Linked DNA regions of Homo sapiens: region 1 is linked to region 2. A link means that fine-mapping ties the variant in region 2 to the expression of a gene that starts in the linked region. Tissue or cell type: monocytes. Region 2 holds a variant in brackets; the other region holds the start of a gene. All regions are shown on one strand. Distances are from middle to middle. Region 1 holds the start of SYT1 (synaptotagmin 1). Region 2 has its middle 220 kb from the start of SYT1.

What was found. PIP is the estimated chance that this variant, and not a neighbour inherited with it, causes the effect. A credible set is the group of variants that fine-mapping cannot tell apart.
Region 1: it holds the start of SYT1, and the variant in region 2 is the best candidate, but not a certain one, in a credible set for the expression of SYT1 in monocytes (TOPMed, PIP 0.79).

Annotation. Positions count from the first base shown.
Region 1 is chr12:78,862,605-78,867,003 of GRCh38, reverse strand. SYT1 (synaptotagmin 1) reads right to left here and starts at 2,230. Exons shown (of 11, transcript NM_005639.3): 1 at 1,895-2,230. RefSeq lists a silencer at 3,387-3,446.
Region 2 is chr12:78,646,006-78,650,404 of GRCh38, reverse strand. No RefSeq gene overlaps it. Among named protein-coding and RNA genes, the nearest start is that of SYT1, 220 kb to the left of the region's middle. The variant T/C (reference allele first, on the strand shown) is at 1,980.

The DNA.
Region 1 (4,399 bases), 220 kb before region 2:
ATTTAGGGAGAGATCATTGCCTCAAATGCAAAATGGTTTGGAAAATAGTACACATTACACTGATGGCAAATGAATTCAGCTCTTCTCTAAGTTGGTGTGTAAACTTATATATTAAACGTACGTAGTGAAAAAATACTCTCTGAGATACAAAATTAGTGTGGAAGGTCAGACACAGTTAAGATAGAAGATTCTCTTTTCTTATATCAAGTGGAGTTCTAGACAAAAAAAAGTAAGACTCTGCATTTCCCCTGATAAATAAAAAGAAGTGTTTTGTATACTAACATCTGTGGATTTCTCTGTGTTCAGGTAAGACCCACTTGGAATGCTTTCCTATTACATCAAACGAGGCATTTCTCTATACCTCCTTCCATCTGACAGTACTATCGCTTAGCTGTCCCTGAAGAATAATAAGAAAAGAAAGCTTATATCCCCAATGATGGAATTAGAGACTGCTGAAGCTGCTGTAAAGGCTCTGTCCAACAAGTACCATTTACTTGACCTATTATGCAGGCAGCCAGGGGCATGTTGGTGTTTTGATATATTTTTCTTTCTTTTAACAAGACGTTACAAAAATGTTTTCCCCTTCAGGATTTTTAAAATTTAGGGTATCTTTCTAGCATTACTTTCTAAACTTAGTTCCAGTACAGGAGGATTCTTGTCCAACTGAGCCTCCATGTGCCTTCTAAAGGGAGTGCTGAAATTGTATAAACATCATGTTTACATCCATTAAATATTGTCCTATTAAAAGAAAATAAAGCCAGGCATAAGTTTGGTATCCAGACAATAAAATGCAAATAGTACAAAGGTAGAATAAAGTGAAAATTCTACACAAATGTAGCTTCCATACAAAAGTTAAACAGTTGCTTTATTTCACGAAAGGGTTAATACTGGAGAAAGTGAATATCAACATGTACACAAAGCTAACTAGAAGATTAGCTTTCTCAAAGTAGAAATCCAAGCCTCCCTATAAAATTGTTGTCCCTTGCAAATGTTTTGAAACTTTACATTTTTTGATCCCCCAACAACAGGCCATACCAAGAAACCTCAGGAAAGTAATAATCTATTTTAATTGTTTTTTTTTTTTTGTTACTCAAGAAAGCTTTCAAAGTTCAGATATTAACACTGATGTGCAATACCAAATTGTTAGCCCCACAGGACAGATGGAAACAGGAAAAGTCAGATGGTTGGCACTCAAAAGCAAAAGCAATTAAGCAGTTGAAAGTGGGTTGGATTGTCGGTTTATTTTTGTTCCATTTGAACGAATCAAGTGAGAGACATAGACTCTTGCAAGGAGGAAATCAAGTCAAACTTGACGCTTCCTCTCTCTGACAGCCCAAGCTGGACTGGTTGTCTACTCCCCTTATTCAGTTTAATTGCTTTATGTGCTCTGATTTTCGCAGAGCTTGTATTCTATCTTGTTTACGTTCCCCCCCCCCCCCATATCCCTCTCCCCAACAGAAAGAAATCTTTCTCCTTTCTTCACTCCCCCTCTTTCCTCTAAGAAAGGCAATCCTCTCCAGGAGGAGAAAGAAACGCTGTGCGTGCTTAGGGTGGGAGGAGGGCGAGAGGGGAGGTGTGGGAGAGAAAGAGAGAAAAGATTGAGATTGGGGGTGGGGGACGGAGGAGAGAGAACAAGAGAAGGAAAGAGGAAGCAAGAAGATGGGGGATGCCCAACATCAACTCCAGGCTCTAAATCACGGGCGCTGTGCAAAGTGCTTTTCCAGGAGATGCACATGTAGTCTCATATTTCTCACAATAGGCCACCCGGGGATCCCTCCCTAGGTCTCAGACTCCCACCACTAAAACCCAAGTGTATCGAGAAGAAAATCTTTGGGATGGATTCGAGCAGATAGGCACCGCCGAGGTGGCCGCGCCGCCAGTCCCGCTTCCTTACCTGGAGGGCGGACCGGGAGGTGGTGCCGGGTCTCGGTCCCCAGTGCTCTCCCCGCGTGGACCGGCGCGAGGCACACGCGTACTCTCGCTGCCTCCGCTCTTGGAGGGGCAGCCTGCAACACAAAAGGGGTGTGTGGGTGTGGGTGTGTGGGAGGTTTTCCAGGGCCACCAGCTGGTCCCACGTGGTCGCCCCCACCCTACACACACCCCTTCGGGGCGCCAAGCCCCCCTCTCGGCTGAGCACCACCCTGGGGACTTGCCCGGGGTGCAGCCTCAAGTTGCCGCTGCTAACTGCTGCTGCCGCTGCCGCTGCTGCAGGAGGAGGTGGAAAGACACTGGGGGCAGTACTCGGTCTAGAGCATCCCCACACTGCAGCTTCTCCAGGAATCCCTCCAGTGAGGAGGCGGCCGCCCATCATCTCCGAGCCCCAGCATCCTGATTGGCTCCACCTCGGGTACGCTGCGCCAAGGAGCCAATCCCCGCGCACTAATAATAGGTGGATCCGTTCAGCCAACATCGCCCATCCCAGTTCTGTTAGTGTCTCTCCATCCCCACAGCGGACAGGGACCTGGGAAGCGGGGTGGAGGCGGGTTGGGGGAGGGGGTGAAGTAAGAGGGGAACAGATCCCAAGGAGACACAATCAAGGGCGTCTGATAAAACCTCTAGGTAGACTCAGGAATGCCCCACAAGCTGTTCAGCAAGCAGTATGCACAGGAGAAAGAGAGCATAATACAAAGCTTTTTTTTTTTTTTTTTTACTCTCAATCAAAACCTACCCTGATACTGAGCATGCCCAGACTGCAACAGCGACCTAGGAGTTTCGATGTGTGTGGGTTCGCCAGCTGTGGGTTTTTGAAAAGCTGGGACCGGGGACAGGAGAGGTAGAAGTTTGTCTTTGGCCATTTAACCCGGCGGAGTTGTGAAAGCTGGGTAGGGTGGGGATGTGAAAGGGTTCCGCACAAGTGTCCTCAAACTGAGCCGCGGGGAGGTGGCCCACCTGGCTGCCGGAGGCTCATCATGCTGTTCTTCTGGGGTTCCGGGTTGGAAGCGGGGGCGGGATAAGCTGAGCTTTGCTGGAAGCCTGGGGACTTCCCGCGAAGGGTGCGGTGGAGCCGAGATGCGGGAGAAGCAGCTCCGTCCCATAGGTGGGGCCGGGAGCGCGACTCCACCCATCAGCGGCGGCTGCCAGGCCGTGGAGAGTGCACTGGGAGTTTCCATTGCAGCGACCAATAAGTTTGTACACTTGGGTCAAGTGCAACATTGTTGGAGATGCTTTTTTATTTTTTCATTTTTATTTTTTGCCACCTCCCTCCCCCATCTCTCTCGACCCCTTGCCAGAGCAGTGACGACTAAAGCATAGATTCTCTCCCTGCTTCCTCTCTTCCCAGCTGAACCGTTCTGCTCGGAAGTAAGAAGCTTTTCTCTTGTGAGGGCGGTGGTGACCTGATTGTCTCTAAGCTCTCAGGCAATTTATAGCTTGGTAATACCGAAATACCGAACAGGAAGGCTCAGCGGGTGGGGGAAGGGACCGCGCGCCAGGCTAGGGGCGGGAGCGGAGCCCAGCTGGGAGAGGGGCCCGTCCATTATCTGCTCCACAGGTGAAAGGATTTCAAAACGGAGAGAACTATTTCCCTTTCTCCCTCCCTCAACCTCGTTTAAAGGCCTTTGAACCTCTTATTTGTTTTATTTAGAAATCCTAGCATTTTGTGTAAACTTGATCAATAGCTACAAATGAGAACTCTCCTAATTGGGTTCTTTATTTTACTGAGAAGATTATCTTGGCATCTCAGGTAGGGAAATAAATAGCTATCTCAATTCCCCAAACCCATCCACTTTGAACTGGAGTTTTATTAACATTGGTGTGCAAAGGTAAATGTAGCAAGAATTCAATTAACAGTAACACATTTCTTCAAGTTTTTAATTAAATCTCTTCTACTTATGTAATGTTTAAGATTAAGATCCTTATTCTAAGTATACGGGAAAAGAAGGCAACGTGATATAAATATATCCTTCTAAGTGACAAACACTTGTATTTGGGCTATGCTTGAATAATAGGAAGTTTAACATTAGAGGTAGAAGTGTGAAAATAATGCACCCCAGACTTGTGACTTCATGTAAATATTCACTTTCCATTTTCCAAAATAGTCTCCAAACCTTATTTTAAAATCATTTCATAGTTGGAGAAATAAGATAAAAGAATTTGGTCTAAATTTTATTTCAGTTATTTAGTGAAGGAGAGGAGGAGGAGAAGACAGAGAAGGAAGAAAAACGACAGGATAAAAAGTAGAAGAAGTTGGAGGAGGAGGAAGGGGAGGAGAAGGAGGATGGTGAGGTGGAGGAAAAGGAGAAGAAGGAGGAAGAGAAGACGAAGAAGAATTAAGTAACCCTGTAATTTTGTTGTCCAATAAATATCTTTGGATGAGAAGATTATTATAATATCCACTTAATATAGATCTTTATTCTAAATATATGCCTAGCATACTTTCTAGATTCCAGTGATTAAAACT
Region 2 (4,399 bases):
GCCACAAGGAATTACTCTTTCAGAAAAAAAATGCAGTTTGGAGAAGCAGTGCTATTTTGTGGTGATGGTGACATGAGTGTAGGCCACTGACTACCTCTGTCAATGATGAATCTCCTTATGAGTTAGTCAATATTTTTTCCAGAGCTCACAAAGCATTGATTTTATACGTACTTTTCAGATACCCAATAATAACTTAAACGTAATTCACAAAATTTTTCAGGACAAAATTAAACACACAAAATACAGTCAATCTGCACACTAACAATACAAAGAGAGAGACAAATCAGTAGTAGAGTAGCATCTAGAGTGTGAGAAGAGGAATATCAGGCTGAACCCAAAGCAGTGCTGTGTACTATAATGGAGTCTGTTAGCTGGTAATCATATTACCTTATTATCTGGCATTACAAAGTATTTTGAAAAGCACCCCCAATATTTCATGTAGGTTCTTTTAACAACAGGTGCTGGAGAGGATGTGGAGAAATAGGAACATTTTTACACTGTTGGTGGGACTGTAAACTAGTTCAACCATTGTGGAAGTCAGTGTGGCGATTCCTCAGGGATCTAGAACTAGAAATACCATTTGACCCAGCCATCCCATTACTGGGTATATACCCGAATGACTATAAATCGTGCTGCTATAAAGACACATGCACATGTATGTTTATTGCGGCATTATTCACAATAGCAAAGACTTGGAACCAACCCAAATGTCCAATAATGATAGACTGGATTAAGAAAATGTGGCACATATACACCATGGAATACTATGCAGCCATAAAAAATGATGAGTTCATGTCCTTTGTAGGGACATGGATGAAATTGGAAATCATCATTCTCAGTAAACTATCGCAAGAACAAAAAACCAAACACCGCATATTCTCACTCAGAGGTGGGAATTGAACAATGAGATCACATGGACACAGGAAGGGGAATATCACACTCTGGGGACTGTGGTGGGGTGGGGGGAGGGGGGAGGGATAGCATTGGGAGATATACCTAATGCTAGATGATGAGTTAGTGGGTGCAGCGCACCAGCATGGCACATGTATACATATGTAACTAACCTGCACAATGTGCACATGTACCCTAAAACTTAAAGTATAATTAAAAATAAATAAATAAATAAATAAATAAATAATATTTTCCCTAAATGTCAGCTGGCCTGAGAAATAAACGGACAGAGTACAAAAGAGAGAAATTTTAAAGCTGGGTGTCCGGGGGAGACCTCACATGTCAGCAGTTTCCGTGATGCCCCCTGAGCCATAAAACCAGAAAGTTTTTATTAGTGATTTTCAAAAGGGGAGGGAGTATATGAATAGGGTGTGGGTCACAGAGATCATGTGCTTCACAAGGTAATAGAATATCACAAGGCAAATGGAGGCAGGGTGAGATCACAGGACCACAGGACTGGGGTGAAATTAAAATTGCTAATGAAGTTTTGGGCACACATTGTCATTGATAACATCTTATCAGGAGACAGGGTTTGAGAGCAGACAACTGGTCTGACCAAAATTTATTAGGTGGGAATTTCCTCGTCCTAATAAGCCTGGGAGCACTATGGGAGCCTGGGGCTTATTTCATCCCTACAGCTCGACCATAAATGATGGCTGCCCACCAAAGTGGCCATTTTAGAGGCCTACCCTAAGGGACGCATTCTGTTTCTCAGGGATGTTCCTTGCTGAGAAAAAGAATTCAGCAATATTTCTCCTATTTGCCTTTGAAAGAAGAGAAATATGGCTCTGTTCCGCCTGGCTCACTGGTGGTCAGAGTTTAAGGTTATCTCTCTTGTTCCCTGAACATTGCTGTTATCCTATTCTTTTTTCAAGGTGCCCAGATTTCATATTGTTCAAACACACATGCTCTACAAACAATTTGTGCAGTTAACGCAATCATCACAGGGTCCTGAGGCGACATACATCCTCCTCAGCTTACGAAGATGATGGGATTAAGAGACTAAAGTAAAGACAGGCATAGGAACT[T/C]ACAAGGGTATTGATTGGGGAAGTGATAAGTGTCCATGAAATCTTCACAATTTATGTTAAAAGATTGCAGTAAAGACAGGTGTAACAAATTATAAAAGTATTAATTTGGGGAACTAATAAATGTCCATGAAATCTTCACAATCCACGTTCTTCTGCCATGGCTTCAGCCGGTCCCTCCGTTCGGGGTCCCTGACTTCCCACAACAATGAATCTCCTTAGAAGTTAGTCAATATTTTTCCCAGAGCTTACAAAGCATTGATTTTATACTTACTTTTCAGATACCCAGTAATAACTTAAACCATAATTCACAAAAAATTTTTAGAACAAAATTAAACACACACAATACAGTCAATCTGCACACTAACAATACAAAGAGAGAGATAATTCGGTAGTAGAGTAGCATCTGGAGTGTGAGAAGAGGAATATCAGGCTGAACCCAAAGTGGTGTTGTGTACTGTAATGGAGTCTATTAGCTTGTAATCATATCACCTTATTATCTGGCATTACAAAGTATTTCTAAAGGCTATTTTCTTTTTGGATAGACAGTGGTGCTTTCAATTCCCTCTAGCAGTCACAGATGTGCAGGTGAATTAACTGTAATGCTCAACTTTCTAACCATAATGAAGAACACTGATAATAATTCACACTGATTGATCATCAGGTTTGTTTGTTTTCCCCACATAATATTAGAAACCTTCCTTCCAGGCCTTCGTTTCCATATTTCATTGTTAACTAGCATTCTACTGTTTCTAATACATATTGTCAACTCTCAGGTGGAGAAGTATTCTTTTAAATGTTAAACTTGTAAAATATCAGTTACATACTTAGCAATGAAGAGGAGTATTACCTTTGTGTAGAAATAAAAAACCACCGCTGTTTGCTACTCAATTATATCTTACTTACCAATGTTAGTATTTGGAGATGCCTCCCCAAATTTGGTTTCTAATAGGAAAATAATAGCAACTAAAAATCAGGTATAATGATATGGTTTGGCTGTGTCCCCACCCAAATCTCATCTTGAATTGTTATCTCAGTTGTAATCCCCACATGTTGGGGCAGAATAATATGATTTGGCTGTATCCTCACCAAATCTTATCTTGAATTGTAATCTGAATTGTAACATCCATGTATTGGGGGAGGGACCTCATGGGAGGTGATTGAATCATGGGGGCCATTCCCCTGTGCTGTTCTCATGATAGGGAGTGAGTTTTCATGAGATCTGATGGTTTTGTGAGGGGCTTTTCCCCATTTTGCTTTGCCCTTCTCTCATTCTTCTCCTTCCTGTCACTATGTGAAGGACATGTTTGCTTTCCCTTCTGCTATGATTGTTAAGTTTTCTGAGGCCTCCCCAGCCCTATGGAACTTTGATTTAATTATAACTCTTTCCTTTATAAATTACCCAGTCTGGTATTTTCTTCATGGAAGCATGAGAATGGACTAATACATATACCTTTGATTATAGCTTTTATATTTGTAAAAGTGAATATTATGGTGAAAACTTGGTTAAAATATATTACTAGGTAGTGATTCAAAATGAAAAAAATTCTCGTGTCCTAACAAAGATTATATTCGTTATTTTAAAACTACATTCCTAAAAATATCCTATCCTGCACAATGATCAGTTTCCCACAATAAAATATTTGATGAGAGTATCACAGAGATTTATTAATCAGAATTTGGTTATACTCAGGTATAAGTTAGGCTACTGCCTCCTGATGTCATTTGAGGACCTCATCTTTGTGCCCCAAAACCCTCTCCCAGGTGCTCATATGATTTCATATGACCTGAAAGGTAACTGTTTGCTAGAGGGTATCAAGCAGCTCTTCAAATCAACAGGAAGACTTGAGAAATACTCTCCAGCAGCAAAAAAAAGGGATTTGAAGCTCAACCAAGATTCAGCAACAAAAATGTGTGCTTAGAACATATGGCAGATTATACTCTCAATTCTCTGTTCTCTTGTAATAGATAATGTATACATTCACAGCCTTATCATGGTCTCATAGTAGAAAAAAAAGATATTTCCTAGTGTTTTAACTTTGTGTTTGGCCATATGACTTGCTGTGAACCATGGGATCTCAGTGGCCATGAAACAGCAAAGACTTAAATGTGTCTGGAATGTGCATGCCCCAGGTATGCTGTTGGATCCCCAGAAAAATGTGAGCCATATGGACAAGATCTAAACTCTAAGTATGGCCTGGAGCCAAGCCTAGCAATGGCTAGTCTAAATCAGCCGAACTCCAGTTAATAAGCAACACATGAGTGAGAAGTAAATACTTTTGTTGTATGCCACTGAGATTTTTGCGATTGGGTGTTGTGCAATAAAAGCTGAATGACACAGGAAAACAATGATCCCAATAGAACTGGAAACTGACAGCCACTTCTCTTGCTATAAGTAGGAATAAATATCCTTGCATTTTCTG